Linked DNA regions of Homo sapiens. The protein of the gene in region 1 purifies or fractionates together with the protein of each later gene. This does not show direct contact. Each region holds a gene or a part of one and is shown on either strand. Other genes may lie near its edges.

Region 1 (3,652 bases):
GCTTGGACTTTGCAAAATATAGTCTTGTTTCAAACAGCTCTTTTTTGGCTTTTTAAAAACTCCTGGTCTGGTGTGGTGGCTCACACCTGTAATCCTAGCTCTTTGGGAGGCCAAGGTGGGCGAATCACCTGAGATTAGGAGTTCAAGACCAGCTTGGCCAATGTGGTGAAACCCCGTCTCTACTAAAAATACAAAAATAAGCCAAGAGTGGTGGTGTACACCTGTAATCCCAGCTACTCAGGAGTTTGAGGCAGGAGAACCTGGGAGGCAGAGGTTGCAATGAGCCGAGATCACGCCACTGCACTCCAGCCCAGGTGACAAGAGCAAAACTCCATCTCCAGAAAAAAGAAAAAAAAGAGGCCAAAAAGCTGCACTTGTTAAAATTGTTTGTAAAGGCCGGGCACACTGGCTCACGCTTGTAATCCCAGCACTTTGGGAGGCAAAGGCGGGTGGATCACCTGAGGTCAGGAGTTCAAGACCAGCCTGGCCAACATGATGAAACCCTGTCTCTACAAAAATACAAAAATTAGCTGGGCGTGGGGGCTCATGCCTGTAATCCCAGCACTTTGGAAGGCCAAGGCAGGAGGATCACGAGGTCAGGAAATCAAGACCATCCTGGCTAACACGGTGAAACCCTGTCTCTACTAAAAATACAAAAAATTAGCCGGGTGTGTGGCGGGCGCCTGTAGTGCCAGCTACTTGGAAGACTGAGGCAGGAGAATGGCGTGAACCCGGGAGGCAGAGCTTGCAGTGAGCCGAGATCACACCACTGCACTCAAGCCTGGGTGACAAAGCAAGACTCCGTATCAAAAAAAAAAAAAAAATTGTAAAGTAAAAATAAACCATCTATGAAAGTGAATTCTATGAATAAAAGGAACAAGCTTTAGAAAGCTTGAACTTTGCAAAATCTAATCTTGTTTCAAATAGCTCTTTTTTGGCTTTTTAAAAACTCCTGGTCAGGCATGGTGGCTCACACCTGTAATCCCAGCCCTTTGGGAGGCTGAGGTGGGCAAAACACCTGAGCTCAGGAGTTGGCGACCAGCCCAGGCAACATGGCGAAACCCTGTCTCTACAAAAAATACAAAAATTAGCAGAGTGGCTGTTACACACCTGTAGTCCCAGCTACTCAGGAGGCTGAGGCACGAGAATCGTTTGAGCCCTGGAGGCAGAGGTTGCAGTGAACTGAGATTGCGCCATTGCACTCCAGCCTGGGAGACAGAGCGAGACACTGTCTCCAAAAAAAAAAAAAAAAAAAAAAAAATTCTGACCCGTGTTGCATGTAGGTGAAGTTGATAGATTGGCTAAGATTTAGACAAGTAAATTGTTACAAGAGTAGTGAATTATCATACATACTTAAAAGCAACCATAGAAAAATGCTACTTTGTGGGAATTTTTCTCTGGGTATGATATTTTACTCTTTTACAAAATCAGAGTGGTTTTTATTATGAGCAACTAATTAGGAAACTAAGTTTGCATTAGGTACTATTTATGGACATATGTACCCTCTAGAACCATGTCTTATGACTGCCCACTGTTCTTAGTTTTGTTATAGTCTCCTCCCCTCCTCTCCGTGGTCCAGCTACATGCTGCATTTAGCTGGTTCCTTATTTTGATAAATATTTGCAGTAAATGTCATAAAACATTAACAACTGACCTATGAGGCCCTTCTGTGCTCAAAAATGCTCCAACTCAAAGCTCCGGGGCATTGCCTCACCCCACATACCCTTCCTCTTAAGCCCTGTAGCTCCACAATCACAGTCCTGCCCACCTGAGTGCTCAGAGTGTCTGTAGCTGGTCTGACAGGTCAGCCCGTTGGCTAAACAGCTCTTCCTCTAACCTCGCTGGAAGTGGCTCAGCAAAACTACAGACTGTACGTGTTGTCCTTACGTGTTGTCCTTGAAGAACAAAAATGTTGGGCACGGCGTTGTTGTTTCTTCTGCAGCAAGTTCCAAAGTATGTAAAACAGACTGAGTGACCATGAAGTCATGTGTCCCCTCAGCCCTATTCCTTATTTCACTTGTAAGAGAACATTAGCAATATTTGTACTGACCATTGGTTATGTATCCAAGGACACTATACTAGGGGCTGATGTGACTTTGAAAAGTACAAGGCAAGATAAGGAAGGTTACGGGTATGAGGTTACAGTCTTATCACCCAGATGGTTTATGATGAAAGCCATGCTGAATGCCAATGGCTGTGAGCTCACTCCTGACACACACTGTCATTTTCTCTTAGAATGGGACATCAGCGCTCCATGCAGCAGTGCTCAGTGGAAACATTAAAACAGTTGCGCTGCTCCTAGAAGCAGGGGCAGACCCATCCCTGAGAAACAAGGTACCCACTAAGCAATCTTTTAACTCGTTTGGGCCCATTGATGTGTCCTCCTAGGCCAGGAAGGATAAACATCTCCCTGGCTCCAGTCACCATCTTCATTCTTTGCATAGTAAGGGCATTCAAGGTTGCTGTTAGTAGGTGATTAGTGAGCAGTACAGTTGGACCCAGGAAATTCTACTGTTAATAAAAACCCTGACTCATATCAATGGTTTTTTTTTTTCTTTTTTAACAAACCCTTGTGTCAAGGGCTGACTTTCAATAGATTTTTGCAGCGAGGGAGGTGCTCTGCTATGTACGAAACCCTGACCCAGAAGCCGGTCATTTACAAATGGTTTAGCACCAGGTTCCCCATGGACGTGCGTTGTGTGATGGGTGAGGGCGCTATCAATGGTTTTCTTTTTTTCTTTGAGAGGGAGTCTCGCTCTGTCACCCAGACTGGAGTGCAGTGGCGTGATCTTGGCTCACTGCAACCTCCACCTCCCAGCTTCAAGCAATTCTTCTGCCTCAGCCTCCTGAGTAGCTGGGATTACCGGCGCAGACCACCATGCCCGGCTAATTTTTTTGTGTTTTAGTAGAGACGGGGTTTCACCATGTTAGCCAGGCTGGTCTTGAACTCCTGACCTCAAGTGATCCACCCACCTCGGCCTCCCAAAGTGCTGGGATTACACACATGAGGCACCACGCCCGGCCAGTGGTTATCAATGAACAGTGGTGCACTCTCCTGGTGGAGGCGAGGAAGAAAGGGAGAGCAGTTACTATGGGAGTATTGTTCTGTCATCTAAGATGTACCCTAAAAATGCCAAAATTCTGGTAGTTTATCACCATTCCCATAAGTTCGATGTTCATATCTTGAAAATTGCTTGTGCTATATTTGGTTGCTTTTGTATTGTTAACAGGAGTACATGCCACTGTTACAAAACAAACCCACTTTTTTCTAGTCCTAAATTCTTCATTTACAATTAGGCCAAACTTCGCGGTGGGTGGGTACACAATAAGAATTTTTTTAAATGATTGTCATTTTACTTCCTCCTCTTCAACATCTGCTTAAGCTGGCACATGTATAGATTGCAGCAGAGGAGAGTAGCCTAGGAAAGGTCTTGAGAGAATGCATGCGCCAGGCGCAAAGGCCCACTCCTGTAAACCCAGCACTTTGGGAGGCTGAGGCAGGTAGATTGCTTGAGCCCAGGAGTTCAAGACCAGCCTGGGCAACATGGCGAAGCCTGTCTCCACAAAAAATACAAAAATTAGCCAGGTGTGGTGGTGTGCACCTGTAGTCCCAACTACTGAGGAGGCTGAGGTGGGAGGATTACCTGAACCC
Region 2 (3,652 bases), on another chromosome or scaffold:
ATCACTTGGGCCCAGGAGGTCAAGGCTGCAATGAGTCATGACTGCACTTCCGCCCAGGTGAGGGAGAGACCCTGCCTCAAAACAAAACAAAACAAAAAAACCAAAAACCCAAAAAGACACAAAAAACACATATTAGCCTAGGCCTACACAGGGTCTGGATCTTCCACCTCCACATCTTGCCCCACTGGAAGGTATTCAGGGGCAACAACACACATGGAGCTGTCATCTCCTGTCACACCAATTGCCTTCTTCTGGATTCCTCCTGAAGAACCTGCCTGAGGCTGCTTTACAGTTGACTTTGTTTCTAGTAAGTAGGCAGAATATGCTCTTAAAAGTATAGCAAATACACAAAGTAGTAACAGTCGTTTATCATCAATTATTACGTACTGTATGGTACTGTACGTAACTGTAGGTGTATACTCTGGTATGACTGGGGCAGTAGGTTTGGTCACACCTACTGCAGCACCACAGACACGAGTAATACACTGCCCTCAACATGGTAGCTCCAACGTCACCAGGTGCCAGGAATTTTTCAGCACCATCATAGTCTTATGGGACCACTATCATATTGTGGTCTGTTGCTGACCAAACTGCATCCGGCAGCACAGGTACAGGCATGCCCAGATGGCCTTGGTAATTTCTGTCAGTGGGATCACAGCAAACACACTCAGTCTGTTGGTCAGGGAGTGTGCAGGAAGCCTGGGGGGCCAGCGGCATCTATTCCCAACTCAGGCATCATGCCAAGACAGTGTCTTCTAAACTCTGAGTAGGAACTGTTCTGGGTCATTTCACAGTCTTTCCTTTCAGAAAACAACAGAGAACTGGGAAACCAGAAGTCCCCGAGCAGGAAAAGCCTCAAAAGAGAGAATCGGCGGGGCACTGTGGCTCATGCTTGTAATCCCAGCACTGTGGGAGGCTGAGGCAGGGGGATCACCAGAGGTCGGGAGTTCGAGACCAGCCTGACCAACATGGAGAAACCCCGTCCCTACTAAAAATACCAAAAAAAATTAGCCAGGCGTGGTGGCGCGTGCCTGTAATCCCAGCTACTCGGGAGGCTGAGGCAGGAGAATCACTTGAGCCAGGGAGGTGGAGGCTGCAGTGAGCTGAGATCGCGCCACTGCACTCCATCCTGGGCAACAAGAGCGAAACTCCATCTCAAAAAACAAAAAAAGAGAGAAAATCACAACAATCAAGCCCAACCCAGAGCCCTTCACTCCCAGTTCCTCTGCTCCCCCAACTCCCATTCAAGTCACAGACTAGAAGACAGATACTGAGCGGCTACAGTCGCAAGCGCCTCAGGGGCAACTAGGACTGAAACTCTAGCACCAGAAGCACAGCAAGGCGGGTGAGGCCTCTCTGAGGGAAGGACCCCCACCACACGGCAACAACCCCTCACAGCCCATTACAAGTTAAACCAACCTAACAGGCAGGCATTCTCCTAAGACTTTCTAAACCATTCTAAGTATGACAGTTTCACACAAAACACGGTAGCCTCCAACTGGCTACTACAAACCATATCTAGATTTTTCTCTTTTAAGTACCCAGGGTTAGGTTGGGCACTAGTGGCTCATGCCTATAATCCTAGCACTTTGGGAGGCTGATGCGTGTGGATTGCTTGAGCCCATGAGTTCAAGACCAGCCTGGGCAACACAGCAATATTTCATGTCTACTAAAAATTTAAAAATTAGCTGGGCGTGGTGGCACATGCCTGTAGTCCTAGCTACTTGGGAGGTTGAGGTGGGAGAATCACCTGAGCCTGGGAAGTCGAGGCTGCAGTGAGCCATGATCACATCATGCACTCCAGCCTGGGCAATGGAGTGAGACCCTGTCTCCAACAAAAAAGGACCCAGAGCTATTGATATGCCCACTATCTTAACTGTGGCCATGGCTCCAAAGGTATGTCTGTGTAAATCAAAAGTTATAAAACCATACTGTATACTCTACATATGGAGCTAAGACACCCACTGACATAAAAATAATCGATTTGTAAAGAAATCCTCCCAAACAACACAAAAGCTCCGACTTTATAAAAATATTTTTGGCTGGGCACAGTGGCTCATACCTGTAATCCTAGCACTTTGGGAGGCCAAAGCAGGAAGATCACTTGAGCCCAGAAGTTCAAGACTAGCCTGAGCAACACAAAGAGACCCTGTGTCTACAACCAACCAATCAATCAATCACCAGGTGTAGTGGTGCATGCCTGTAGTCCCAGCTATTCAGGAGGCTGAGGCAGGAGGATTGCTTAAGCCCAGGAATTTGAGGCTACAGTGAGCTATAATCATGCCCCTGAACTCTAGCTTGGGTAACAGCAGGACCCTGTCTCCAAAATACACACACACACACACACACACACACACACACACACACACACACACACTTTTAAGTGTACTGATGCAACCTCCCTCCCCCTTTATTGGCTAAAATTCAGTACATAATACCATTAAAGTACTAAAATAATAAGAACACACTAGAAAACAAGAAATTCAAAAAATTAGTTAACTTCCTGCCATTACCTCTATCCAAAGGCCCATCACTAAAGTCAAGTCAGTTCTGCCCAGAGGAAGGGCAGATTCTCAGAAGGCAACCAAGAGACAAGAAACAGAAGCAGGGTCGGAGCGCGGGGCAGCGCTGCCGAGGCTCCACCTGTACAAGGTTTCTTGGTCTCTAAGCTGCTTGATTCGCCAAGTGCAGTAGGAGGGAGGGGGATGAAGGAACATTCTAAGAAGTTCTAAGACACCTCAGAAAAGGGCAGACTAGTTTTATTCCTTCACAGAGAAGAGGTGAAGCCTGGTTTTACTTTAAAGTAAACATGCCCAGTAGCTGAGGGCTACTTGGAGTGGCGGAGGAAGGAATGTGAATCACAGCACACGAAATGGAGCACTCAGAGCATCTGCTTTGTGCTGCCCCATGAGGCCTGCTCACCAAAGTGAGGAGCTCACAGAGGTGCAGCCCCTCATCCAAGCCAACGGCCTGGAGGTAGGAAAGTGAGGCAGGGGAAGTCTGATTCCCGAGTTGGACTCTTAGACATAAACAGATACCGCTTCTCTTGGGAGTTTTGCTGCAACAGCAGCACAGAGGAGAGAGAGCAGCTCCCAGTAGATTTTAACCAGGGCAACTGTATCCCCCAAAAAACATCCACCAAGACAGTTTTGCTTGCTACAACTGGGGATGGGGAGAAGGAGTTGCTAATGGCATCTAGTGGGTGGGAAGCCAGGGAGGCTGCTAAACATCCAACAATGCACAGGACAGCCCCCAAAACAGAATGTTCCCGTGCAAAATGTCCACAGTGCCAAGGCAGAGAAAGCCTGAATTACCTAAGAAAACAGGGCAGCTATGACTCACTGGGCCCTGCTGTATCAGGTACTGTCTCAGCGCTTTATGTGCACCATCTGATGTCATCCTCCCAACAATTCTACAAACAGTTACTACTCTCTCTCTTCTACAGAAAAGGAAATTGAGGCAAGAGAAGGCAAGCCATGGACACAGGCCAGTCAGTGGTGGAGTTAAAATTGAAACCAGGCTGGGCGCGGTGCCTCACGCCTATAATCCCAGCACTCTGGGAGGCCGAGGCGGGTGGATCACCTGAGGTCAGGAGTTTGAGACCAGCCTGGCCAACATGGTGAAACCCCGTCTCTACTAAAAATACAAAAAT
Region 3 (3,652 bases), on another chromosome or scaffold:
TGTAAGTCTGAGCATAAAAACAGAGGTTAATTTGGTCTGAAAGTAAGTGCCCTGACCCTGAACTTACACATGAGCGTCTGACATAATATTTGACAATTTTTTATGCTGTTACTTGTGTAAAGATATTCACAGCAAAAAGTTTGATTTTGTTTAGGTTACCAGAGGTTAGGCTGGAAATAATTAAATATAACTGTACTCATTATAAAAATAGTTAACATCACCAGCAAACATTTGTTAATCTACTAGGTGCAATACCATATGCTCTTGATACTATGCCATCTTACATTTAATTAAGAGTTCTTTACAAATCATACTCTGTGTTTTTCACAGACATTAGAATGGCTTGCATATTTACACATTTAGTTTTTTCAACATCAAAATCAAATGCACAAGTTTCAAACATCACTTTGAGTTCTTGAGAGTATAGTGTGCCAACATTTTAAGTACTTTCTTCTTTTCTTTTCTTTTTGAGACGGGTCCTGTTCTGTCACTCAGGCTGGGGTGCAGTGGCACCATCTCGGCTCAGTAGAACTTCCATCTCCCGGGCTCAAGTGATCCTCTCACTTCAGCCTTCCGAGTAGCTGAGACTATAGGCATATAACACTACGCCTGGCTTTTTTGTTTTTTTCATCCTTTTTTTCATGTGTTAGGTACTTGTCACTATTCTCTTGACTTTTTTTTTTTCTTTTTGAGATGGAGTCTCGCTCTGTTGCCCAGGCTGGAATTCAGTGGTGTGATCTTAGCTCACTGCAACCTCTGTCTCCCGGGTTCAAGCGATTCTCCTGCCTCAGCCTCCCGAGTAGCTGGCACTACAGGCGCACGCCATCATGCCCGGCTAATTTTTGTAATTTTAGTAGAGATGGGGTTTCACCATATTGGCCAGGCTGGTCTTGAACTCCTGACCTCAGGTGATCCACCCGTCTCAGCCTCCCAAAGTGCTGGGGGATTACAGGCGTGAGCCACTGCACCCAGCTCTCTTGACTTATACACATTTAATCTATTCTATTAATTTGTGTTAATTAGATATTGGTCTTCAAATTTTAGTATTCATAAGAGTCACCTGGACAGCTTATTAAAAATACACTTGGGGACCAGGTGTGGTGGCTCACGCCTGTAATCCAAACACTTTGGGAGACTGAGGTGGGTGGATCCCCTGAGGTCAGGAGTTTGAGACCAGCCTGGCCAACGTGGTGAAACCCTGTCTCTACCAACAATACAAAAATTAGTTGGGCGTGGTGGTGCATGCCTGTAATCCCAGCTACTTGGGAGGCTGAGGCAGGAGACTTGCATGAACCCGGGAGGCGGAAGTTGCAATGAGCTGAGACTGTGCCACTGCACTACAGCCTGGGCAACAGAGCCAGACTGCATCTCAAAAAAAAAATGAAATAAAAATAAAAATACAGTTGGGGATAGGCATGGTGGCTCGTGCCTGTAATCCCAGCACTTTGGGAGGCCAAGGTGGGAGGACTGCTTGAGCTCAAGAGTTTTCATCAGCCTGGGCAACATAGGGAGACCCTCTCTCTACTAAAAATAAAAAAATTAGCTGAGTATGGTGGTGCCTGCCCCTAGTCCCAGCTACTCCAGAGGCTGAGATGGGAGGATCGTTTGAGCCCAGGAGGTCAAGGCTGCAGTGAGCTGTGATTGTGCCTCTGCACTCCAGCTTGGGTGACAGGGTGAGACCCTGTCTCAAAAAAACAAAAACCAAACCAAAACAAAACACCAGTTTACAGGGTCCCATCTCCAGTGATTGGGGCACAGACTAGAAATCTGATTATTTATTCATTAGAGTTGAGGTCTTGCTTTGTCGCCAAGGCTGGAGTGTAGTGGCTCAATCACAGCTCACTGCTGCCTCGAATTCCTGAGCTCAAGCAGTCCTCCCAAGTAGCTGTCCCCTAGGCTGGAGTGCACCTGGGGGTACAGTCATGAGATACCATGTCTGGCTGATTTTTAAATGTTTTGCAGAGACAGGGTCTCCCTATGTTGACCAGGCTGTTCTGGAACTCCTGGGCTCAAACAGTTCTTCCCCCTTGGCCTCCCAAAGTGCCGGGATTATAGGTGTGAGCCACTGTGCCCAGCCCTGATTTTTATTTTTTTTTAATTTTAATTTTGTCTTATTATTTATGTTTTTGGAGGCGACATCTCACTCTTGTCACCCAAGCTAGAGTGCAGTGGCGTGATTGTAGCTCATTGCAGCCTCAAACTCCTGGGCTCAAGTGATCTTCCTGCTGCAGCCTCCTGACTGGCTAGGACTACAGGGTCACACCACCACACCTGGCCAGTTTTTCTACTTTTTGTAGAGACTAGATCTTGCTGTGTTGCTCAGGCTGATCTCTAACTCCCGACCTTAAGAGATCCTCCCACCTTGGCCTCCCAAATTGCTGTAATTACACATGTCAGCCGCGGTTCCCAGGCCTATTTCTCCTTTTAATAAGACCTTGGATCTTAGTGTGCCACCCTCCAGCAATAATCTTTGCCAACTGGTTCTAAGAGTCAATCAGGCCAGGCATGGTGGTGCACACCTGTAATCCCAGCACTTTGGGAGGCTGAGGCAGGCAGATCACCTTGAGGTCAGGAGTTCAAGACCAGCCTGGCCAACATGGTAAAACCCTGTCTCTACTGAAAATACAAAAATTAGCTGGGCATGATGGTGCACACCTGTAATCTCAGCTACTCGGGAGGCTGAGGCAAGAGAATGACTTAAACCTGGGAGGCGGAGGTTGCAGTGAGCCAAGATCGAGCCACTGCACTCCAGCCTAGGGGACAAAAGCGAGACTGTCTCAAAAAAAAAAAATGTCAATCAGTCTGACGTTCTACATCTTTATTAGGGAAAATACTCTCTTTGACAAGCAATTTGTTTTATAAAATATCTTCTCTGACACATTTGTTTTACCCTAGTTTATTTTCTGTTGCATCTTATGATGGTTTCATCTTCAAATCTATTAATTTGTATTTTATAAAGAGTCATCTTAATTAGATTTATTTAATCCTTATTAGTGGTCCTTTTATTATTCTTTTTTTCTTATATTTTTATTGTGGCACAAACTTTATACTAAAAGGAAAAGGAGATTCATTGTGAATACATGATAAGTGAAGGAGCCAGTCACAAAAGACCACATACATATGATTCCATTTCTATGACATTTCTAGAATGGGCAGATCTGTAGAGAAAATAAATTAGTGGTTGACTAGAACTATGGAGGAGGAGGGAATGGAGAGGGACTACTAGTGGGAATGGAGTTTCTTTTCAGGGTGTTAAAAATGTTCTAAAATTGTTTGTGATGATGGTTATGATATCAAACTAGGTTCGTCCTGCCCACGTGCAGCAAGCCAATCACTATGATGATGGGTTTTGCAAAAGAGACAAGATTTTATTCATAGGGCTGCTGAATGAGGAGACAGGAGAGCAAATCCCAAATCTGGCACCCTGAAAATAGGGCTTGGCAGTATTTGTGGGGTAGGACGCAGGGTGGTCTAAAGCATGGGGAAAGGTGATTGGCAGGTAGGAAAGGTGAGGTAATCAAGGTTTCTGCACAAGCGTAATTGAGCTACATTGCTCTTCATAGGCCATGTGCAGAAAATGGCAGTGTTAACATGATCTAAGTGTGGAGTTTTTGTCCCTCTGACATGAAAAGGTCACTTTTTGGGCACTCAT

The links.
Region 2: the proteins of ANKRD29 (region 1) and YTHDF1 purify together in Homo sapiens (affinity purification with mass spectrometry, with the first as the bait; one large-scale study listed by BioGRID). This does not show direct contact.
Region 3: the proteins of ANKRD29 (region 1) and TFCP2 purify together in Homo sapiens (affinity purification with mass spectrometry; 3 studies listed by BioGRID and IntAct, with this or other methods). This does not show direct contact.

What each region holds. Positions count from the first base shown.
Region 1 is NC_000018.10:23,610,774-23,614,425, reverse strand, and holds part of ANKRD29 (ankyrin repeat domain-containing protein 29), read left to right. Parts: intron 1-2,235; coding exon 2,236-2,334; intron 2,335-3,652.
Region 2 is NC_000020.11:63,209,632-63,213,283, forward strand, and holds part of YTHDF1 (YTH domain-containing family protein 1), read right to left. Parts: intron 1-3,652.
Region 3 is NC_000012.12:51,166,539-51,170,190, reverse strand, and holds part of TFCP2 (alpha-globin transcription factor CP2), read left to right. Parts: intron 1-3,652.